Linked DNA regions of Homo sapiens: regions 2, 3 and 4 are each reported to be linked to region 1. The links are microRNA targets in miRTarBase. Many come from high-throughput screens and were not tested one by one. Region 1 holds a microRNA gene; each other region holds the end of a gene's coding sequence.
Evidence for each region. Region 1 holds the annotated microRNA hsa-miR-34b-5p (UAGGCAGUGUCAUUAGCUGAUUG, at 4,455-4,477, shown strand). A microRNA usually pairs through its seed, bases 2 to 8, with sites in the 3' UTR of a target mRNA and lowers its output. Matches are read on the target gene's strand: a 7mer-m8 pairs with bases 2 to 8, a 7mer-A1 pairs with bases 2 to 7 and ends in A, and an 8mer does both.

Region 1 (5,998 bases):
TTGGCCTTATACATTACAATCTCCATAAATTTGCTTGTGTTTTTCCTTCACAAATTGCTCCTGCTACCAAAACATTCCCTCTTCATCTCTAGTATTTTTGCTTCTAGGCTCATCTTTTCCATATAGCCTTCTCTGTGTCCTAACCTTTGATAATTTTCCTTTTCCTTTTTCCTAAATGTTGGCAATAATGAAGTTTGTATTAGTCATCAGGATTCCTGAAGCACTTTTTCATATAACCATCTTGATATTAAATAATTATATATAATATAAATAGAATATATAACACAAACATGAATTCTTAATCTATTACTATAAGTTATATTAAGATATATTCATATTACATACTAATATAATTAACATATTAATTATCTATATATACACACATTGTCCATCTCACCAACTAGACCACATAAATCCTTAGAGATTGTTCTCTAAAGATGGAAAATATGCAACCTGTTTGCTCCTACTGAAGCCATACCTAAGAGCTCCGGCAACTTTAATTATAGAGACTATTTTGTTAGACTGCTTATGATTTACCTGAAAGATAAATTAACATTTTATACTGAAAGCAACAGTATTGATTAATCAATAAATATAAACAAGAAGCTAATTAAGAATCTGGTGCACTCTTACTAATGAGAGTACAATGAAATGAAACTAGAAATATGGAATTATAAAAACCGCTGGCAGTTCATTTTAGCTCAAAAGAAAATCTTCTCCCATAAATAGATTCAATTATTTTTAGTTCTTCAAAGGCACTGAATTGACTTCAATTTAGTCTTGCTTCAACATATAAACTAGTTTCTAGGTATACTATCAAGAAGTTTAATAATCTGACATTTATTGATCTATAAACCAAGATATGGTTTTATATTTCCTATGAGTAAATATGCATTTAAAAAAACAGGTTTAGGCCAGGTGCAGTGGCTCACTCCTGTAATGCTAGCACTGTGAGAGGCCAAGGGGGGTGCGGTGGATCGCCTGAGGTCAGGAGTTCGAGACCAGCCTGGCCAACATAGTGAAACCCCATCTCTACTAAAAATACAAAAAATTAGCCAGGCATGGTGGTGGGCGCCTGTAATCCCAGCTACTCAGGAGTATGAGGCAAAAGAATCGCTTGAACCTAGGAGACAGAGGTTGCAGTGAGCCAAGATCACGTCACTGCACTCCAGCTTGGGCAATAAGAGCAAAACTCCATCTCAAAAAAAAACAAAAACAAAAACAAAAACAAAAACAAAACAGGTTTATAAAGAAGCTGCTAAAATCCAGTAATTTCTAATTAGTCTAATTCTTCATTTCTTCCTCTTCCAACAACATCCTTCAAAAGCTGTGGGAGATGGTGAGTTTGTATGTATTGAAGGGAGGGATATGTTGTCTCCAATTGTCTCCATCTTTTTTTTTCTTTTTTCTTTTTTCTTTTTTTTTTTTTTTTTTGAGATGGAGTCTTGCTCTGTCACCCAGGCTGGAGTGCAGTGGCACGATCTCGGCTCACTGCAACCTCTGCCTCCCGGGTTCAAGCTATTCTCCCACCTCAGCCTTCCAAGTAGCTGGAACTACAGGCGCGCACCACCACGCCCAGCTGATTTTTGTATTTTTAGTAGAGACAGGGTTTCACCATGTTGGCCAGGATGGTCTCTATCTCTTGACCTCGTGATCCGCCCGCCTTGACCTCCCAAAGTGCTGGGATTACAGGTGTGAGCCACAACCCCCGGCCTGTCTCCACCTTTTCTAATTCCCAATTCCCATCAATCTAGTCTTGTATCTAGAAGTGGTAAATTAAGTCAATATAAATGTGCCAAAGCTAAAGCAGAAGGTATTTGTTTTCTACACTCTTCTTGGCTTCCTCCTAGTCATCAACCTTGTCTCTCCTGATAGCTCCTTTTCCATCTCCCTAATCACCAAAAGCCCAGAAATTAAAACAGTAAACAATTCCCCTGAAAGGTGCCTTCCTTGTACTGTCTAAAACAAATGCAATCCTCTGTGTGGGCATTTAAAACACCACAAGCATTCTTACTTAGATTAAATCATGGGTCTCCCTGGTCTCCAGGCATGCCTAGACATGAACCATAAAGGGAATGAGATCCTTGGAGTTTCTCTAGTAACTGCAGGCCAAATCAACAGCAACCCTAAGAACAAGCATTCTTTTTTTTTTTTCAACAGAACTAGGCCACACATATTTTTTGTCGTTATTTAAATTTTTAGTTGTACTACATAGAAAATAAACTCATTTTAAAAAGTTATTTCAGTAGGCAATGCATCTTCATGACTTTTACATATGAGTTTTATTTTTTATTACTTTTGAAGAAAAGTCTGTAGAAACCTACTTTTCAAGGCATCTGACCCAACCATTGCCTTGGATGGCAGCAATCCAGCTCAGGTAAGATATTTAAGATGCAACTAATAATCATAAAACATCAGTTGGGAAGAAGTGTTCGATATAGTATTGGGTAAAAGTGACTAACAATTTGGTAGAAGAGAATCATTTTTATAACTATCTCCTAACCAAGATTTCTCTAAGTCTGCATATTGTTAATGGAATGAAGACTATTTTGCTCCTAGTTTCATGTATGTATATTTAGGTGAATGTGAGTCATTTATGTAATGTGTGCTAAAACACCGTGCCCCTCACAAAGATAAGATGAATACAAAATACAGTTATTGTAGATGGCTTGTCTTTCACAATTTAATTCTACGAGTTAATTTTTACAATTAACATTTTCTGTGCTACATATTTTGTATTTTGGTTTCTTTCCCTTCACTATGGGGTGTACAGAACAAAGTATGCATTTGGAAAAAAAGTGCTGTCTTTCATATGCAAAGAAAATGCTATAACTTATTCAAACATCCTTGGGCAGTTCTTTAGTTGTTTTAATAGTGTGAGTTTGTAGTTTGTATTGAATGATCCAGATGACCTGCCCCTGTTCATGTTACTTGTGGCATCTATGAGACCATTTGCTGGTTTTAGGGAATCAATCTATAGGTGGGAAGTTTTCTTTTGCAGAAACTAATTTAGAACTAAGCCTTTGGTGTCAGCAATGGGTGCTCTATACTGGATGCATGAAGACCATATTTCTAGGGGAGGCTGCTTCCAGCTGAATTTCACAAGGTGAGGATAAAGAGAACATTCCTTATCCTCTCCTGATTAATTCATTAAAGGCAAAGGAGGGGAAGGAAAGTTATTAGCAGAGATCTCCCAGAAGTCCTCTGTAACTGTCCCTTTTGCCCAACTGTCACAAGATACTGTTTTTCTGGCATCCACAGCCCTAACCCTGAATATCCAAATGTACTCGTGCATCAAGGATCTACTCAAGTCTCACCTCCTCTGGGAACCTTCTTTGACCTATTACAGCTCTCATTGAGGACCTCCCTTCTATTTCTGATACAAATAGTTTCTACTATTCTAAATAGTCCCTAGTTTAGTAATTTATTATATATATACTGTCTTGAATGGTATGGCCTTGATCTCAAGAGGACCACGATTTGATGTAACTAACAAGCTGCCTGGCTCACTATTTGACTAGAAGGCCCAGGCTTCACATCACTGCATGGCCCTCTAAGAGTATAAGGCCAAGTCCCCAACAGAGCACAGAGGTGCAGATGAGACTCTCCAAGCCATCCTCCCATATGTCAGAGGCTACCCAAGCCCACCTCCATTTGGAAAATTCAAACCTATAATTTGAGGTACCTGGGAAGCCGCTTTCCCAGGGCGGAATGGTCACGGAAACTGGGTAGGCTGGGGGCCTTCTTGGGGAATGAGGGAGTGGAGGAGCTCTTTGTCCCTCCTGCTAGATCAGAAAGAGAAACGTCTCAAGAATCTGGGCCTCCATCTTCTAGGCGTCTCCCTTGGAGGCCCTTCAGGGACCGCCCACAGCGCTTTCTCTCAGCCTCCTCCCCCCCCCCATCCCCTCCCCCACCCGCCCCGTCTCGCGCCCGCCCCGCCCCTCGGCCCGCGGGGTTCCAAGGACGGTTGGTCGCCCCCGCCACAGTCACTCGGCCGCTCAGAGCGGCGGGGCGCACGGGGTCGAGAGAGCCAGCTCTAGGGTTTGGGGCTGGGAACTGAAGCCTGGCGTGAAGGAAGTGGGAGCCCGGGCCGAGGAGGCGAAGGGGAAAGGAAAAGCGAGGGGAACCTGAGCGGGAGGGCCCTGAGAGGAGCGGGAGGCTGCGGGAAGGGGAGGCCTGGCACTCCTGGGGGTCATGGGGGTCGGGGCGCGGCTCCCGGCCTGGGAGGGCGCGGGTCCTCCCCGGCAGCGCCGCCCGCTGGCCCAGCTACGCGTGTTGTGCGCTGCGAGGCCGGCGGGGGTCCCGCTGGGCCCGGGGGTGTCCTCGGGGGCCGCTTGCGCCCAGCCATGGTAGGGCGTCCCCCGGTGAAATGGGGTCCGAGGCGGGCCCCGACCCCGCGTCGGCGCTGCGGACCGTCCGGGAGCTGCAGCCGCGGGTGCCCGGTGCTCGGTTTGTAGGCAGTGTCATTAGCTGATTGTACTGTGGTGGTTACAATCACTAACTCCACTGCCATCAAAACAAGGCACAGCATCACCGCCGCCCGGCCGGGAAGAAGACGCCGGCTCGGGCAGCCCGCAGCCTTCGAGAGAAGATGCCTGAGAAGCGCGGCGTCGGCGTGGGTCCTGCGCAGCCTGCCCCGCGAGCGCCCGCTGCAAGTGCGAGGAAACCCGCGGTTTCTCCAGATACAGTTAAACTGTTAGCTCTCTCTAGGAGTCACAGAAGATGAAACAGTCTCATGCCAGGAAAGCAAAATCCCTGGAGGTGAAGCCCCTCCATCCATGTAACGGTTAATACTGTATGCTGTGATTCACTGTGTCTATTTGCCATCGTCTAGTAGAGTATTCACCAAGCTAGCAACTCAGTTGAGCTCCAACTCAACCAATGAATTGCCTGCCTGTCACAACGTGTTGGGGTACCAACTTGAGACTGCAATTTTTTCTATGAGTCTAGTTACTAGGCAGTGTAGTTAGCTGATTGCTAATAGTACCAATCACTAACCACACGGCCAGGTAAAAAGATTTGGGAATTCGTCCAAATGAGCTGCCTGTGCATCATCAATGTGCGTGGGGAAGAGGGGTGTTGGAAAATGCTGATTTCATCCATTGCCTATTAATTGCTCAGCCAAAAGAAAAAAATCAACATTTCAGCTACTAAGTTTACAATGTATGTAATGTGTATGTATGTGGGGTTTTGTTTTGTTTTTTTTTCAATATTCCTTCAGGCTCTTAACCAAAATTTTAGATATAAGGGGGAATATGATTTTTTTCTTAGCTGACTGATGTATGTTATTATATGAACATGTGATTATTAACTTCTTGAGACTATATTGTTAGTAATATTTTGAAAGTAATATTGTTAGTAATATTTCGAAAGAATAAAGTGCCATAAAGACATAAATTGTGGTTATTGCTATGTGTCCATTTCCTTTGCTAAATTGACTTTATGATGTCCATCTCAGTTCCTGCCACAGTAATCTTAACTTTTCTATCAATGAAGTGGTTAAGTTGTTCCTGCCATGACAAAAATCTCCCGGGAAAGCTACTCATACACACAGACTTGTTAATACTTTTATAAGAAATACATTAACAAAATTTTTCATACTTCTTTTTTCCATGAAGAGACTCTGTTCACTCATTAAGATGTATCCCTTCTTTTAAGTAATCATTTACAACTGTTGGAGTCTATGCAACTTTTAGTGGGAGTGATTAGTAAATGCACTTACACTTTAAATCCAGCTTGTTTCCTAAGATTTAAAGGATTCAGAATTTTAAAATCACAGAAACTGTACACATGGGCACGTATCCGCCCAGTTCAGGCCTCTAGCTCCCAAGGGCTAGGCTTTCAGGCGTGAATTCTCCAGCGCAACGTTCTCAGAACTTCCACCTAGCAGGTGCTGTCCCTGGCAATCTGGTTTGGAAGTGGGGATTGGGGCAATGGGGCTGAGGAATTTAAAGTTTATTTAGCTATCTTTCTGGGGGGAGGGGAGAGGATGTGGCAG
Region 2 (5,998 bases), not on the chromosome of region 1:
ATCTTCTCACCCACTCATCACCTGTCTACCCATCCACCCACCCACCCACCCACCCGTCTATCCATCCATCTATTCATCCACCTACCCATGTAAGCACCCATCCACCCATCTACTCATCCATCCACCCCTCCACCCATTTAGCTATCCATCCACTCAACCACTCACCCACCCACCCATCCACCCATGCATCTACTCACTCATCCATGCTCCCATCCCTCCACCCATCTAGCTCTCATCCATCTGCTCACCCACCCACCATCCATCTACCTATGCCACCAACAATTATGGAGAAGTCTGCTAGGTGTCAGCCTCTGTTCTAGTTACCAGGATGCAATGAAGTACAAGGGAAGCCAGGTCTCAGTCCTCCCTTAAGTAGCTCATTCTGTTGAGGGCCAGCAATACTAATGACATAATCAGGCAAAGAAACAGACAATTACAAGTTGTAAATAGGGTTTAACCAAGGTTGTGAATGATAGGAGGTGCCGACTTTAGAGACAAGAAAGCCTTTTGGGGGTGGACATCTTAGCGGAGACCTAAGGGGTGGGAAGAGGCGGTCATCTCAGGGCCTGGGAAGAACATTGCAGGGGAACAGCCGGTGCGGAGGCCTGAAGCAGGCTGGGGCATGGCTGCTCTTGGGACCATCAGGTGGAGGGCATGGGTGAGGGAGAGTGAAGTGCAGCCCCCTCGTGGGCCGGGCGTTGGCTGTCGGGCCCTGTGGCACTGGCCGGGAGTGCAGGGAGCTGGTGAGTAGGGGTGTGGGTGACAGGCTGGGCTGACAGGATGCTCTCTTTGCCAGCAAAGGCCACCTGAGCGCTATCCTGGCCATCAAGGGGAACCTATCCAACAGTGAGGTCAAGCGCATCCGGAGCATCTTGGACGTCAGCATGGGGGCGCAGGAGCCCTCCCGGCCCCTATTTTCCCTTATAAAGGTTGGTTAGCTTTTCCTGTGGCCTGACCTGCCTGTGAGTGCCCAGCAAGCCTTGGGCACACCCCGCTGGGAGCTGTTAAGAGCAGCGCTGGTTCTCGGTTCCTCCCGGGTCTCCTGTGCTCTGATGCTACTTCTGCCTAGCCCTGGCGGAGGTGCAGGCCCTGTCAGCTGGAACTGGACAGACCTTGGTTTGTTTACATGTCCGATGGGGGCAGGAGCTCCCATCCTGGGCAGCCAACCAGGCAACACCAAGGACTCTTTGTAAACGATAGCTGATCGTGTGCACGCAAGGAAAGAACCAGGAGGGAGAGTGCAGCCAGGCTCAGGGATCCCCGGACACCTCTGTCCAGAGCCCCTCCACAGTCGGCCTCATGACTGTCCTCCTCGTGGGTGGGGCCGAGGGCCCTCTTCAGCTCTCTGGAGACAGGGGCCGAGCCTCACCCATCTGCCCTCTGCAGCCCAGGGCCGCCGTGAGCGGGATTCAGCAATGGTGGAATGGAAGACAGAACTGGAAGAGAAAGAAGGAAAAGATGAGCTCTCGTCTGGCAGGGGCTTTTAGGGTCCTGTGGCGAGCTGTGAGCACCGCCAGCATTAGACGTCACATCCAGGTGGCCCCACGGCCCCTACAGGCTGGCCCTGCAATGGGGCCCTGAGCCCTCCCTCTTCATCCCCCAAGGCCTCAACTAGAGGGTGGTCCCCCGAGGGCTTGGTGTCTACTACCGAAGGGCCCAAGACCTCCTGGGTCCTCTCAGGCTCCCCCTTCCCCAAGGCAGGGACAGGCCCTGGGGGTGCCACCGTGGGCCCTGCCACCCAGAAGTCTGGCTGAGGTCTGGGCAGGGGCAGGGCAAGCTTGACCTCTCACTGTTGACCCTTTGGCCTCTGTATTTGTTTCCTATTGCCGTGACAGGTTTCCACAAACTTCGTGGATCAAAACGAGGTCTTCCAGTTCTGCGGGTCAGAAGGCTGACCCGGGGCTCAAATCTGGGTGTCGGCAGTCCTGCACTCCTTCTGGAGGCTCTAGGGGAGAATTCATTTCTGGCCTTTTCATTTTTAGAGGCTGACCGTAATTCTTGACTTCAGGCTCCTCCATCTTCAGAGCCAGCTGTGGGTAGTTGAATCTTTTTCCCGTCACCTCATTGAGGCCTCCCCTCTCCTGCCTCCCTCCACCACTTTTTTTTTTTTTTTTTTGAGACAGGGTCTTGCTGTGTTGCCCAGGCTGGAGTGCAGTGGCCTGGTCATGGCATCAAGGCTCACTGCAGCCTGGACCTCCTGGTTCAAGTGATCCTCTTGTCTCAGTCCCCTGAGACAATCCCCCACGCCCAGCTACATATTTTTTGTGGATACAGGGTCTCATTCTGTTGCCTAGGCTTGTCTGGAACTCCTGGGCTCAAGGGATCTTGTAGCCTTAGCCTCCTAAAGTGCTGGGATTATAGGCATGAGTCACTGTACCCGGCCTGCTCTACCGCTTTTAAGGACGCTTATGATCACATTGCGCCTACCCAGAGAACCCAGGTCGTCTTTCTATTTTCAGGTCAGCTGATTAGCCACCTTAGTTCCATCTGCAACTTTAGTTCCCACTGGCTGTGTAACCTAACATAGTCACAGGCTCTGGGGACTGTCACGTGGACATCTTTGGGAGGCCGTTATTCTGCCCACCGCACCCTCCGTTCATCCCCTGCCCTGCCGGGCACCTCGCTCTACCCCAGGAAAATGTGAGCTCGTTTTCCTGCTCGGCATGTGCTCCCCCTAAGGCTCTGCTCCTCCCTGGGCCTGAAAGTTCCTTCTCAGCCTGAGAGGGGGCCCTTCGGACTCAGGCATGACTCAGCCCGGCTGATGCCTCTGCAGTGCTGAGTCAGGATTTGGGGCCGGCTCTCTTGGGTCCGTCCCCTTTTCCCAGGTACTGCCTTACAAAGCTGTGGCCAGGAAGTGGCCGGTATAAAGGATGCCCAAGGTCTTTGTACGTGTGTAGGAGTTAGCGTGTTTGATATTGTTAATATAATAATAATTATTTTTTAGAGTACTGCTTTTGTATGTATGTTGAACAGGATCCAGGTTTTTATAGCTTGATATAAAACAGAATTCAAAAGTGGCTGTGGAGTGATTTATTTTGGGAGCTGCACAATGATGGGGGGCCCAGCCAGGCAGCCTTAGCAGCTTTCTGAGCCTCTAGGGGTCCGGGCAAACCTACCTAGGTTCTGTGTCAATCCCCAGCCTGTCCCAGCCCCCAGAGCACCTCATGTGGTCCAGGCAGGAGATGGCCCACCATCCCCTCACTGTGAGCAGGAGCTTTGGAAGTGTCTGCCTGTAGGGCATGGACAGTCACTTCACCCTTCCGTGCCTCAGTTTCCTCATCTGTAAAAAGGGGACTGTGACCCTTTGGGGCTTCCTCCACCGTCCTTTACTGAGGAAGAGGGTGGGGTGGACACGGGGCAGCCATTTCAACCGCATGCACGGGACACAGAGTGGGAACTGACTCTTACCATGCTGGCATTGACCTGAAAGCTACAGCTGTGGACACAGGAGGTCTGGTTTGTATTCAGAGACGGGCTCAGCTGCCACGGAAGGGTGGGCCTCTCCGCAGCCAATCTGGCCTGGAATTTGGGAAGGAGCAGAGTCCCTGGAAGGGAAGAAGGGTACCTTGATGAACGTTGCACAGAGGCCGGGGAGGGCCCCAAGGGGAGCCGTGTGCACCTGAAGAGGGGTGTGGGCTTCAGCAGGGCCTGGGACAGCCCGGAGCTGGGGGTGGGGGAGGGCAGGCCCTTTCTCCTGAGTTCCATTCTTGGGGCCAAAGCGGATGGCATGAGGCCACCGTGCAGTGAGAGAAAGGAGGGAGACGAGGGCCAGGGGCAGTGCGGCTTGGCACGGAGACCCTCTGCCCGGCTCCTGGACCCGCCGGTCCATGTGGCTGCGAGGTCCTGGCCTGGTTGAGCCACGTGGGGAGCGTGGGCCTTGGGCGGGCGAGTTCCCGTTCCTCTCCTCGGAGCACAGGGTCAGGGGGAAGTGGGGGCAGCGCGACTCTCCCCTGCATGGCCCCCTGACCCTGGGCAAACGTGGGGAGAGATGGCGCCTGAGCCCCGATGGAAGCTGTCAGTGGGCCCTGGCACACATTCTCCCACGGGGGCGGACTTAGGTCCCAAAGTGACCCCCAGCCTCGCGGCGGCCAGGGCGGGCCGAGTCGTCGGAGCGCGGCGGGACCTGGGGCCAGGTGGACCCCCCTCCCCGGGCTGCGTCCACCCCTGGCAGAGGGGCGGGCTCCGGGCGCGAGGCCCCAGGCGAGGAGGAAGAGGGTGCGGGCGGCGCCTTGGAGGTTCCTGCTGTTCCTGCTTTTCGGGGCGGGGGCCTTCCGGGTCACTGTCCCGCCAGCTGTTGGATCTGCACCAGTAACTTCTCCAGGAAAATCCCCCGGAGAGGAGGATCTGCCCGGCGGAGGGGAGCGAGTCCCCCAGCGCGGGGACAGGGCGGGCGGAGCGGGGCCTGGGCCAGGCCTGGTGCCTTTGTGCAAGGACGGGCCCCGGGCTGCCCAGGCTCCTGTGAGCAGGGGTGGAGCGGGGAGGCCGCAGCCCCCGCGGAACACCGGGCGCCCCCGGCCTCCAGCAGTGGGAAGCAGCCCGGGGGCTGACGCTCCCTGCAGGAGCCAGGAGCAAGCAAACAAGCAGCTTGAGTGCAGGCGCGGGGACGGGCCGGGGGTGCCTGCGGGTGAAAGGGCGGCTCAAAGGGACAGTCGCTGGAGGCCCGGTCTTGAGGAGGTGCCTGGAGCAGACCCGGGCTGGGCGCTGCGGGGGAGGGAGGAGGTTGCGGAGGCCGGCGGGCGGGAACGGGGAGGAATTCCAGGTTTCAGGCAAAGAAAGACGGCAGGACTGGGGAAAAGGGATCCTGGACAGGAGACTCCGCAGGAGGAAGGAGGGGGCCGGTAAGTGGGCTCCTTCCAGCTGGGGAGCGGGGCTGGAAGGGGCTGGAGACGCGAGTTTCAACTCATGGGATTTATGGCTTGGAAAGACCCCTCTGCCCTTCGGGGGCGCTGGGGTCCCCAGGGGAGAGATGAGGGCGGCAGCGAGGGCCCCCTCGTGCAGTGAGATGGAGCGAGCTCTCGGTGGGCTGAGGGAAAGAGCAGCCCAGGGGCTTCTAAGAGACCGGGAGGGAACCAGGCTGCTTCCAGGGACAGGGAGGGCCTGGGAGGGGAGAAAGGGCTGAGGAAGCGCTTGGTCAAGTTCAGGGGGAGAGGTCCCTCCGCACTCGCAGTTGTGCCCTGTGTCACCACGATGTTGTTCCCAAAGTATTCTTCTGGTGTTTTTTTTATTTTTATTTTTTCCTTCTTTTCACAGGTGTTGACCCAAAGTATTTTCTCTCATGCCTGGCCACTCTGCCCTGGACCCTCAACCCAGCCGAATATGACACATCTCCAGAAACCCAGCAGGCGCAAGCCGCAGGGTTGGCCTTAAAATCCTGCTTAAACAGGAGACCCTGGAGGCCTGCTTCAGTGCCACCAGCCTAACCGCCAGGGCTCATCAAAGACGCTGCCCAGATGCATTGAACGTAAGCAAGATCAGCAAAGGTTTATCTCAACTTCAGACTCACTCCCAGAAACTCACTCTTGGGAGCTCTCTGTGGAATTGGGCCCCCCTTCTTCTGGTATTATGTTTTCAAAACTGACAGGGATATGAAAGAAAAACTTATCCAGGAAAGAAAATTGGGTTGAACATTTAACATCTCATTTAAGTCTTGCAATAATGGCTATATGTATTTTTGCTAAATAAATCTTCTATTAATCTTTTTTTTTTTTAAAGTTTGAGATGTCTGCAGAATGGGCATGTGGTTCATTAGAGTGACCAATACCCCGGTGAGTGACAACACTTTGTGTGCGAGGCTGCCGGCCGCCAGGCCCTCTCTCTCGCTCACTGCTTTGGGGGCATCATTTTGCACAGCCCCTGTGGAGGGTGATTTGGGCTTCCGGGTCAGGCTGACAAATGCAGGAACCTGTGAGGCAGCCATTCTCCTTCCAGGAATGTACCTTATCCATGCTCTACCAGCTATGCAAAGCAACTTGAGTGCCAGACTAGTCACTTCAGTTAC
Region 3 (5,998 bases), not on the chromosome of region 1:
GCTGCAGGCCAGCCCACACTAACCCATCGCCCCTTGCCCTTGTCCAGAACGATTTGACCATCACTGCCCCTGGGTGGGCAACTGTGTGGGGAGACGGAACTATCGCTTCTTCTACGCGTTTATTCTCTCCCTCTCATTCCTGACGGCCTTCATCTTCGCCTGTGTGGTCACCCACCTGACGTTGCGTGAGTTGTGGGTGAGGGCAGTGGGGAGTGGAAGGGGTCAGCCAGCAAGCTCAAGGGTCAGCAAGCTTCAGCAGTCACTGTCCCTCTGAGCTTGTCCTCTCCTGTTTCTTTCTCCCCAGGCGCTCAGGGAAGCAACTTCCTCTCCACTCTGAAGGAGACACCAGCAAGATATCCTTTGTCAGCTAGAGGACACTCCAGTGGGAACTGAGGTCCCTTCACTGGGTGGGTGCCCTGCCTCATCCTCTAATCAGAAGGGAACAGCGTACAGCTCACATGTGTCCTCCAGAATCCAACATGCCAGCTCTTCTGTTCACACCCAGGCAAGAGCTGATCCTAAATGGGGCATTGTGGGGCCGGGGGTTCCTCGTCTTCAGGGGCCTGGAAAAGAGTATGTCCCTTAAGATGCCAAGCTCCCTGGACCGTGTCGTGCCCAAGGCTCTTTGTGATTGGAACCCTCAGTTTTCTCTGCCGTCCATCACCCTGACCTTGTCTGGCTCTTGAGTGGGGTCCTGACCCTTCCGAGGGGCCCAGGAGGTGATCCTGCTAAGAAGTGGGGACTGGGCCACAGGAAGGTTCCAAAACTTCTCAGCTCTCTGGGGAAACAGCTCCATGGAAGGATAGGTGAGACAGGCCAGGTGTGGCTGGGAGGCTCCCCACCCTCCACCCATTGAAGTCCTTAACTGCCCTCACCGTGCTGGAGTTGGTGATCTGCTTCTTCTCCATCTGGTCCATTCTGGGCCTCTCAGGGTTTCACACGTACCTCGTCGCCTCCAACCTGACTACTAATGAAGACGTGAGTAAACCTGGAGCCACCCCTCATTCTAGGGCAGCGCCCTCAGGAGGAGGCAGGGCTGAGGGAGCCTGGGGCAGCCAAGCACAGTCCTGACTCACGGACTGCTGGGATAATGCCTTTTAAGCAGCCAGATGCCTCCCAGTCATCTCAGCTTGGCCCTGGTGGGTCCGATGCAGGCTTCTGACACCTCCACATGCTTCATTCTCTCAGTGCAGGCTCCCAAGGTCCCAGGTTGCTTTTCTCCACAGCCCTGCAGGAGGCAGTACTCACACCACAGCACGCATGATGTTTGGCTGGCACATGACCGCTTACAGAATTCTTTCAGTTCCCGTCATTTCTTTGGGTCCTTTTGCCAAGCCTGAGGCAGAAAGGACAGGGATGTTTTTTCCCCATTCGATGACTGAGAGACATGTCCCATGTCTGAGAGGTCACACAGCTGGGAGGGGACAGAGCCAAGGTTGGTGCCCAGTCACAGGTATGCGCTCCCTCTTCCACACTGCCCCTGTCAGCAGCAAAGCCGTGACTATTCTCAAGGTGGCACTGGCCTGTCCTGGCTGCCCCTCTCAATATGCACGCCTGGGGGAGACAGGGCACAGGCCAGTGGGCTCCATTGACCTTCCCTGCCTGCCACCCTGCAGACTGCCATCAACAAGCATGTTTGATGTGCCCAGTCCTAGGCCAGACCTGACTTCTCCTCCCCATCCTCCAAACACTAAAAAGTAAATGAGAGCATCTGTTTCAGGGCCCACCATCTGATACTTACCAGCAACCCATCCTCCAACAGAAAATACATTCCCAGACCTCATCCTCTCATTCAGGGAAACAAAACTTCACACATGACAGGGCGTTGTGTGCCTGGTGATCAGTGAGAACAGAAATGCCATCAGCCAGTATCTCCCGCAGTAGCTTCTTGGGTGCCAGTTCTGCAGCACATTACCAGAGGTTAAAGAGAAAGGAGTGTGTGGCCAAATAAGTGTAGAAAACTCTAGGTTAAAGTCAAGGTATTCTTTATTGCTAAACTCTCCAGTGCCTTCCATAGCTGACTTCACAGAGCTAGAGAATCTGGCAAGAATTAATCTAATGCCCTAGCAATGTCATCTGAGAATTAGTATTATTTTCCCTGTTTTCCAAATGAGGACTCAGGCTCAGCGAAGTGGTGATCTGTCCAGGTAACGTAGCCAGTGAGTAGCAGGGCCGGGGCTCACAGGCAGGTCAGCCCTCACCCTGTGCCCCTGCGCTACCCTCCTTCAGAAGTGGCTGGCCGGAGAAGGGAGGAGTCATCCGAAACGTTTCCTCTGGATGCTTCTCTTGGGCTCTGCTCTGTCATCTCCTCTTTGGGGCCTCCTGATCTCTGCCAGGGGTCCCCCACATTCTCATTGAATGGCCCACATGAAAGACATGTCGCCTTCTGTAACCAGAATTGGTTTCGGAATTGTCCAGTTGTCCCCAGCCTCTAGACCTGCCTCCTAGAAAAGTGAAGCAAAAGGAGGTACTTGACCTAGGCCTCCTTCCTGCTTGCAGATCAAAGGCTCGTGGTCCAGCAAGAGGGGCGGTGAGGCCTCTGTCAACCCCTACAGCCATAAAAGTATTATCACCAACTGCTGTGCTGTGCTCTGTGGCCCCCTACCTCCCAGGTAAGTGAGCGGGGTGCGGAAGAGGGGTAACAGGGCCATGCCTGGCCAGTGATCAAAGTGTTCCTGGATATCAGCCGACCTCCCCCTACACCCTAGATGCCCTCCGTCCACTACCCCCTGGAGGGCATTTGTCATGTGACGGAATTCCATGGAGAATTGTTATTTAATCACGTGCTCATTGTAGAAAAAAAAAATTAAGTACAAAACGTAAAACAGAGGAGCATTGGATATGACATGTAATTCTACTCCCCGGGGGTAGCCACCATGACTGTTTCAGCCATGTTTGAATGACACTGCCCTTCCGGTTGCCCACTGCCTGGACTGGGTGGCGACTCCATCCTCTCCTGGCAGTAGGAACCCTGGGGACTCAGCCCTGCTGGGTCACTCCCTGTTCATCCTGACACCAGGGGGCACCAGAGTTCCAGAACGGGGATTACATTGCTGTGGGTACTGCTAAGACAAGTCATTCCCACACAGTCATGTCACCTACCCCACCCAGTATCCCTGTCACCCAGCCTGCCTAGAGGGGAAGGGAACATAGGAATTTCATAGTCATCAAATACCTATTCATCCTTGCTTTCCTCCCTCACCTGCAGCCTGGCTTCTTGGCAGCCAGACAGGTGGGCCAGTTGGAATTAATAGTGAATAAATTCTGTGGCCAAAAGCCAGGTGGCCAGAGGGCAGAGAGAGGCCTGCCAGAGGTAAGAGTCTTGGGCCCCCAGATGGGCAGCAGCTCTCCTTTCCTCAGCCTTTCTCAGCCTGGGCCTTTCCTTGGCTGAGATAGACTCTGCCGTCCAACCCCTGGCCTAGAGCCTCAGTGTTGGGCAGAGCCCTCATGTGTCTCCCTTGTGTTTTGGAAGCCTAATTGACCGGAGGGGATTTGTGCAGTCCGACACCGTGTTGCCCTCACCCATCAGAAGCGATGAGCCAGCCTGCAGAGCCAAGCCTGATGCCAGCATGGTAGGAGGCCACCCCTGACCACGGCTCAGTACTTGCCACCTGCTGGCCTGTCTGACCCTCCGCACTCACCTGCCGGGACCCTCCCTATTCCATCCAAGGGAAGCAGAACTGCCAAAGACTCAAGTCTTTTCATATTTATTTCCCATCCTGCGTGGCTTTCCCTGAACTGTTCCGTGGCTGTGCCCTCTGCTCCCCAAACCCAGGTTCCCACAGCCTTGGGCCCTAGGTACCCCAGCTGATCAGTGCCAGGAGAGACCAGAGCCTCTGGAGGCTACCCAGGGGACCACACCAAGTCCTTGCCTGTGCCGGGCGAGCCCTGTGTGAGTGAGGCTGTGAACTGAGCGTGAGGCCTCCCAGGTGGGGGAACTGCTTGGGCCTTGCTGAGCCAGGGTCCTCAGGGTGAAGCAGGACTGAGGAGTGGCCAGCTCTGGATAGCTGGCTGTGGAGAGGAAGCCTCCATGGGCTGCTTTGGTCTGTGGGCTCCTTCATTCCCTTGGTGATAATTTCCCTTTATTCTGTGGGATTTTTGGTGGGGTTTTCCCCCCTTTTTTATGGAGTTGGCCAATAGGATTGAGTTGGGGCTCCAGTAGAGAAGGCAGGGTTGGTGGTGGGTGGGGGCAGCCTGTATCAGACAAAGGTAAATCAGCCAGCCAGGCACCCACAGCCTCAGCTCCTGTGCAGTTCCTGGGCAGCACAGTGGAAGTGGGAGCCTGGTCCTTCCCCTGCCCATGGAGAGCTCTTTAAGGGATCCCAGCCTGCCCCTCCACTTCTCTCCCAAGCCAGGTCCCGGCATGGGTGGGTTATGCTCATGCTGGCAATACTTGAAACGGGTTTATTAATGCTGGGTATTTTGCACAATTTTATAGACCTCTTTTCTACATAGTCTTTTTTAAATGGAAGGAGAAAATGTCAGCCACATTACTGTCTGTGTAGTGCCAGGTGAAGGGTTATCAGAAGGCTGGTTGGTTTTAATAAGTTTATTCCAAGAGACCTTCTGGCTGGAATGAGTGAGAGTGTGTGTGCATGTGTGTGTGTGTTCATGTGTGCCCTGTATGAATGTGGCTGGCTCCCATATCCCCTGGGCTGCCCCCTGCCCCATCCCCTTTGAGTGTCAGAAGCACTCTGAGCCAAGGGGACAGGGGGCACGTGCACTGGTCACGAGAAAACCCTGGGCTCCCACTGGGGCTCAGCCCAGCCTCCTATCTTTCCTTCTTCTATGGACTTCAGACAGCCAGTGTCTGGGGACTCTGCCACTCTACCCCCAGCCCTACCCACCAGCCCCCAGGTGAGGCTTCCAGCTGGGACCTGCCCAGACAGGCTGAGCCTGGGCGTGGTGGGTGGGGTGATGGCTCTGGGGAGCGGCTGCCATCCTACAAGCCACACCCCCTCCTCTGAGCTCTGAATATGGGACCCAGTGCCAGGAGCTGGAAGACAAGGTGTTTCTGCCAAACGGGGACCTCCATCCAGAGAAAAGGAAGAAGGTGCAGGGTGGGCCAAGAGGCAAGTGAAGGTTGGCCTGAGTCTGGGCCGGAAACTCAGAGGATGTTTCTCCTCTGCTGGGAGCTGTAGTTTCTTATCAAAATAGATATTGTTCCACCATCCCCCTCCTTGGCCCTTCAAGTGGGCTGAAGCCCTTGGAAAGTGACATAGGAAGTCCCCAGATCTTGCCCTTCTCACTCCAGAGGCTAGTGGTCACAGACAGCTGGGAATGGCAGCCACAGAGGGTCCCCTCTGGGAGAAACAGCTTCACCCCAGCCTCAGGGCCCTGGGCCATCACTGCAGTGGCCCTGGGAGGTGAGGAAGAAGCTGGCTAGAGGAGGGGGCTCCCACCTACCTTTTATTTAAGCCAGTATTCTTTGTTCCTGCTTGTAATAAAACTTCAGTTTATAAGAGTTGCTTTGCTTTGGTTTGGTTTTTGTTTGCTTTTCCTTTGCTGAGGCCCCAACTGGGAGCCCTCTGTTCTTTCAGACAAATTTGGTTCTTTCCTGGGGAGACTGTGAGAAGGCAGGCAGCCCAGTGATCTGGCTACATTTTCCCTCACCTGGCTGGAGCTCTGTCCGCTGGAGGAAGAGCAGAGAGGGCTGCGGCTGAGCCCCCATGGGCACGTGAAAAGAGGCCATCCTGTCCCCTCTTTGTCCCCTCCACCTTCCCCTGCCTCAGGGGCTTGGAGACCCCCAAATTCTTCTTCCCTACTGCCTTTCCACTCCGATCCCCAATGAGTGCCCAGCTAAGAAAATGTTTGAGACAGTAGATTCCAGTTTGAGAGCCGGAGCTTCCCTGGCTACCACCTCCAACCTGGGCACCAGGGCCCAGCCAGACAACTCATAACACTGGCCCACCTCTCTGGTATCTCCCTCAGGAGGACACCTGTCAGGATTTTGCCATCTCCTGCACAGCCTGAGGGGAGCTAACAGGCCTCTTTGCAG
Region 4 (5,998 bases), not on the chromosome of region 1:
AAATAAATTATCTCATGTACTCCTCTAAAACTAATTACTGCTGTGTAAATGGAGGTAGAAAGAAACTAAGCTTTATTTCTGCCTCTATTGTTTCTTTAACCTGCCTTGCTTCCTTTTTCAGTTGCACCTAATTGGCTGTACTTTTAGTTTTCTTTAAAACTGCCTTAAATTTCAAAGACTAAAGCAGCAATAACTAACTGAATATATTTATATAACATGTTATTTTTGTCATGTTGCTTTCCACCCCTGGAGACCTGCTCTAAATTCACTTGGACGTTTGAGGATAAATCATGCTCACTAGCAGTTTCTGAAAATGCAGTTTCACTGAAAATGCAGGCATCCAGAAATTTAGTAAGCAACTTAAAAGAAAGTGTAAGAATCTCCTATGTATTCATTGAAAAATAATTTGAATTTATGCTTAGAAAAATAGAATTATTATTAAGAAATCTTACACACTCATGTTTTTAAATATCTTCACTAAGGACCAATTGTGTATATGGTGTAACACTGTCCTCAAAGAACATGCCGGGAGAATTGTTGCAGTTACCAGAGGGTTAAATTTGGCAAACTCTTTTTTATTAACGTGCCTTTTAATTATGAAATAGCATACTCACCTTAGATAAAATTTGAAAACCATTTTTGTAAAGTGGTACAATATTGAAGAAAGTTGATAACTTTCAGACCAGATTTAAGCCTCAAATCTACCTCTCTTTTACCTGGACAACTCATTAGCATTTCTGAACCTCACATTTTTTCTATAAAGTGAGAATACTATATTATAGAGTTGTTGTCAGTTAAATGAGAACAGTGTCTGATCACAACTAGTCAACAAATGTTCACAACTCTTCCCCTCCTAGGAAAAGAATCTCAAGGCAGACCTGCTTCGGGTCTGCTCTGTAAAGAGGTAGGAATCCTCTGCTCCCGGTAAATTGCTTCCTAACCTTCTTTGGTAATAGACTATTTTTTAATAAAGGTGATGGATCATTTCCCATTATACACTCAAAATGTGTGTCCATTTCAGGGCAGTCATGGATGACCATTGCCCATCTTTTGACCCCAGATTAAGAACACCTGCTGTAGTATTTTAATTCTGCCTTCAAATCCTCTTACAAAACAAAGACATCTTTAAAAAATAAAATTCTTTAGGTGTCTTGCAGTTGAATGCAGGAAAACCAGAGCCCCTTATTTTTGATAGTTTTGGGAAGAATGCAGTGTCAGAACACAAACCCATAATAGACAAATAATTTGCACAGAAACTTCATAAAAGTATTGACCTGATTTGCCATGTATTTGCCACCTTTTAAAACACACAACTAAATGTTTACCCTGTGTCTAGATCCAAATGGGTGAAGAAAAATGAGTGACAATACATCTACTTAAGCTCACTTACATAATTGTGGCCATGCCGTTTTTTTCACATTACATTATTAGAACATTGGACAATAAGTCAAGAAACAGAATGTTCTACAAAATAAACTTTAAAAATTGGTAAGCATCATGTGCTTTTTCCAGAAGACATTTTATTTTGTTGAATCAAAGGTGGCTCTTTGGCACTGAGTAGCTCCGTGGAGTCATGGCAGTCCTCATTCCCTAATCCTGAGCCTGCCTGAGTCGCTGCTGTCAGTCATCCACTTGTTGGGATTTCAAACTGCATTAAATCCCCTCCTATAGCTGTCACTGCCAAGCAGTTGCACTGGCTCTGTCCTACCTTTCTGTTGGTAATTCTGTTTTTAATCCTGTGCTTCAGTGTAGTTTATATAAATCTTTACAGAGGGATAAAACTTCCTGTAATTAATTGTTTGGGTGAACATGTACCTGGGAGAGCTATTGGGAAAGGGGCCAAATTTGCATTCCAGCTCCTTTCATCCCCACCCTTGAGCTAACCAAGTCCTGTGGATTCTTCCCTTAGCATCTCTGGAACCTTCTTTTCTTTTCTTTTTTTTATGACCACCTTTCCAGTCCTGGCCCTTCAAACTTGAGTGACAGCAACAGTCTCCCTGCCTTGAGTCTCTTTCCTCCTTCTCCCAGTGTGCATACGGTTGTCAAACTCATCTTGATAAACTACTGCATCGATTGTGGCTACACTCCCCTGCTCCCACATCTTCCATAGACCCCACTGTCTGTAAAATAATATTCAGTCTGGCCTCAACCTGTCTTTCCAGCCTCGGTGACACAGGTCTATTCTGCCTGAGACACTTACTATGACACCCTTGCTTGTTCCTGGGGCTTTGACACATTTCCAACGTCCCATTGTTCTTCCTCTCCAAATCAGCCAATTGCCCAAGCCCTGCTCAAATCTCCCACCTCATGAAGCCTTCTTGATGCCTCCCAGCACACCATGATCTAATTTCCTGAAGTAATTATGCTAATTGGGCATTTGAAGAATTGTTAACCGATTATCAACTAACTGCCCCTTAACATTGCATGTGTAGTTGTCTTCAAAGGCAGTTAAATTATGTCATGTTCCTTACATTGTACTGAGTGCCTCGTATCCTTATCCATGTTTGGGGGTTTTACTTTAAGTCAAGAAATTTAATCACATCCATTTGGTTTTCTCTAGAGCTGTAGTTCTCAACCTTTTGTGTGGTAGAGAAACACCTAGAGAACATGTTTAAAAATATCCTGGGTTCCACCCTTGAGAGATAATAAGGTCCAAGGGGAACCCAAATATCTGTGTTTCAGGTCAGCTTATTGGCTCATCCTATTATACCAACTCCTCAGAAGGCCAAGGTGGGTGGATTCCTTGATCTCAGGCGTTCAAGACCAGCCTGGGCAATATCGTGAGACTCCATCTCTTAAAAAAAAAAAAAAAAAGGATTAGCCAAGTGTGGTGGCATGAACCTGTGGTCCCAGCTACTTAAGAGGCTGAGGCAGACAGATTGCTTGAGCCTGGGAAGTCGAAGCTGCAGTGAGCCATGATCATGCCACTGCACTCCAGCCTGGGTGACAGAGCAAGACCCTGTCTCAAAAAAATAAAAATGAAAAAAATCTGTGTTCCCAAGTTCCAAGTGATGCTGATGCTGCTGGTTGCCTTTAAGCATCTCACAAAGAACGAACTCATAAATGCTAATACAGTATATGTCTATGGATACTGAATAGTGGGTTTTTTTTCTCTTTTCTTCTATTCTGTGCTCATGTTGTGTCACTTCTTCCTTTTAGATTGACTTTGAAGATGTGATTGCAGAACCAGAAGGGACACACAGTTTTGACGGCATTTGGAAGGCCAGCTTCACCACCTTCACTGTGACGAAATACTGGTTTTACCGCTTGCTGTCTGCCCTCTTTGGCATCCCGATGGCACTCATCTGGGGCATTTACTTCGCCATTCTCTCTTTCCTGCACATCTGGGCAGTTGTACCATGCATTAAGAGCTTCCTGATTGAGATTCAGTGCATCAGCCGTGTCTATTCCATCTACGTCCACACCGTCTGTGACCCACTCTTTGAAGCTGTTGGGAAAATATTCAGCAATGTCCGCATCAACTTGCAGAAAGAAATATAAATGACATTTCAAGGATAGAAGTATACCTGATTTTTTTTCCTTTTAATTTTCCTGGTGCCAATTTCAAGTTCCAAGTTGCTAATACAGCAACAATTTATGAATTGAATTATCTTGGTTGAAAATAAAAAGATCACTTTCTCAGTTTTCATAAGTATTATGTCTCTTCTGAGCTATTTCATCTATTTTTGGCAGTCTGAATTTTTAAAACCCATTTAAATTTTTTTCCTTACCTTTTTATTTGCATGTGGATCAACCATCGCTTTATTGGCTGAGATATGAACATATTGTTGAAAGGTAATTTGAGAGAAATATGAAGAACTGAGGAGGAAAAAAAAAAAAAAGAAAAGAACCAACAACCTCAACTGCCTACTCCAAAATGTTGGTCATTTTATGTTAAGGGAAGAATTCCAGGGTATGGCCATGGAGTGTACAAGTATGTGGGCAGATTTTCAGCAAACTCTTTTCCCACTGTTTAAGGAGTTAGTGGATTACTGCCATTCACTTCATAATCCAGTAGGATCCAGTGATCCTTACAAGTTAGAAAACATAATCTTCTGCCTTCTCATGATCCAACTAATGCCTTACTCTTCTTGAAATTTTAACCTATGATATTTTCTGTGCCTGAATATTTGTTATGTAGATAACAAGACCTCAGTGCCTTCCTGTTTTTCACATTTTCCTTTTCAAATAGGGTCTAACTCAGCAACTCGCTTTAGGTCAGCAGCCTCCCTGAAGACCAAAATTAGAATATCCATGACCTAGTTTTCCATGCGTGTTTCTGACTCTGAGCTACAGAGTCTGGTGAAGCTCACTTCTGGGCTTCATCTGGCAACATCTTTATCCGTAGTGGGTATGGTTGACACTAGCCCAATGAAATGAATTAAAGTGGACCAATAGGGCTGAGCTCTCTGTGGGCTGGCAGTCCTGGAAGCCAGCTTTCCCTGCCTCTCATCAACTGAATGAGGTCAGCATGTCTATTCAGCTTCGTTTATTTTCAAGAATAATCACGCTTTCCTGAATCCAAACTAATCCATCACCGGGGTGGTTTAGTGGCTCAACATTGTGTTCCCATTTCAGCTGATCAGTGGGCCTCCAAGGAGGGGCTGTAAAATGGAGGCCATTGTGTGAGCCTATCAGAGTTGCTGCAAACCTGACCCCTGCTCAGTAAAGCACTTGCAACCGTCTGTTATGCTGTGACACATGGCCCCTCCCCCTGCCAGGAGCTTTGGACCTAATCCAAGCATCCCTTTGCCCAGAAAGAAGATGGGGGAGGAGGCAGTAATAAAAAGATTGAAGTATTTTGCTGGAATAAGTTCAAATTCTTCTGAACTCAAACTGAGGAATTTCACCTGTAAACCTGAGTCGTACAGAAAGCTGCCTGGTATATCCAAAAGCTTTTTATTCCTCCTGCTCATATTGTGATTCTGCCTTTGGGGACTTTTCTTAAACCTTCAGTTATGATTTTTTTTTCATACACTTATTGGAACTCTGCTTGATTTTTGCCTCTTCCAGTCTTCCTGACACTTTAATTACCAACCTGTTACCTACTTTGACTTTTTGCATTTAAAACAGACACTGGCATGGATATAGTTTTACTTTTAAACTGTGTACATAACTGAAAATGTGCTATACTGCATACTTTTTAAATGTAAAGATATTTTTATCTTTATATGAAGAAAATCACTTAGGAAATGGCTTTGTGATTCAATCTGTAAACTGTGTATTCCAAGACATGTCTGTTCTACATAGATGCTTAGTCCCTCATGCAAATCAATTACTGGTCCAAAAGATTGCTGAAATTTTATATGCTTACTGATATATTTTACAATTTTTTATCATGCATGTCCTGTAAAGGTTACAAGCCTGCACAATAAAAATGTTTAACGGTTAAACAGTCAGCTTTATTATTTTTTCCCAAAACAGGTGTTTATGTGTCAGAGTCTGTGTATGTCTATGTATTTGTATGTAATGAGCATGTGCATAGTGTGTGTATGTGTTTGTATGTGTTTGTGGGGGGTAATGGTCTCCCACTTTAAAATTATTACAAAGTCACTTAGGATATTTCTGCTAAGGTCATCACCATTTATGAGTTGCTTCAGATAAAAGTTATAATTAATAACAAAGTTTTTTTAGCAATTTGCCCAATGTTTTATATGTCATCTAATTTGAGCCCCCAGCAAGCTTGTGTGATGGATATTAATACTCTTAACTTAGCGAAAGACACAATTTGCATTCGGGGCCAATGCCTTCAACTTTGCCATGCCTTAACTGGGTTTTAAAGAGGTATATTGCAGTCTCAATTTATGTTTGTTGCTTGGCTAAGTTTACCTTCAGGACTCCTATATTAGGGTTCTCCAGAGAAACAAAACCAATAGGAGATAGTTGGAGATAGATAGATAGATGATAGATGATAGATAGATAGATGATAGATAGATAGATAGATAGACAGATGATAGATAGATGATAGATAGATGATAGATACATAGATAGATAGAAT

Region 2: the mRNA of TNFAIP2 is a reported target of hsa-miR-34b-5p. Seed matches in the 3' UTR shown: 7mer-A1 at 1,062-1,068 and 7mer-m8 at 2,828-2,834.
Region 3: the mRNA of ZDHHC18 is a reported target of hsa-miR-34b-5p. Seed matches in the 3' UTR shown: 7mer-m8 at 5,764-5,770.
Region 4: the mRNA of CAV1 is a reported target of hsa-miR-34b-5p. Seed matches in the 3' UTR shown: 8mer at 3,863-3,870.

Annotation. Positions count from the first base shown.
Region 1 is chr11:111,508,496-111,514,493 of GRCh38, forward strand. MIR34B (microRNA 34b) reads left to right here and starts at 4,443; the gene lies at 4,443-4,526. BTG4 (BTG anti-proliferation factor 4) reads right to left here and starts at 3,891. Exons shown (of 5, transcript NM_001367975.1): 1 at 3,686-3,891. It overlaps MIR34BHG (MIR34B and MIR34C host gene), which reads left to right and starts at 2,107. Exons shown (of 2, transcript NR_147706.1): 1 at 2,107-2,377; 2 at 4,523-5,393. It overlaps MIR34C (microRNA 34c), which reads left to right and starts at 4,944; the gene lies at 4,944-5,020. RefSeq lists an enhancer at 1,547-2,746.
Region 2 is chr14:103,134,423-103,140,420 of GRCh38, forward strand. It overlaps TNFAIP2 (TNF alpha induced protein 2), which reads left to right. Exons shown (of 12, transcript NM_006291.4): 12 at 797-3,017. The coding sequence ends at 938. It also overlaps the pseudogene NDUFB4P11. Among named protein-coding and RNA genes, the nearest start is that of TNFAIP2, 14 kb to the left of the region's middle. RefSeq lists enhancers at 890-1,391, 5,895-5,944, 5,975-5,998.
Region 3 is chr1:26,850,254-26,856,251 of GRCh38, forward strand. ZDHHC18 (zDHHC palmitoyltransferase 18) reads left to right here. Exons shown (of 8, transcript NM_032283.3): 4 at 48-185; 5 at 305-353; 6 at 876-978; 7 at 2,500-2,612; 8 at 3,473-5,998. The coding sequence ends at 3,590. Among named protein-coding and RNA genes, the nearest start is that of SFN, 9.9 kb to the right of the region's middle. RefSeq lists an enhancer at 2,979-3,480 and silencers at 3,095-3,154, 4,727-4,899.
Region 4 is chr7:116,555,787-116,561,784 of GRCh38, forward strand. CAV1 (caveolin 1) reads left to right here. Exons shown (of 3, transcript NM_001753.5): 3 at 3,160-5,393. The coding sequence ends at 3,501. Among named protein-coding and RNA genes, the nearest start is that of CAV1, 34 kb to the left of the region's middle.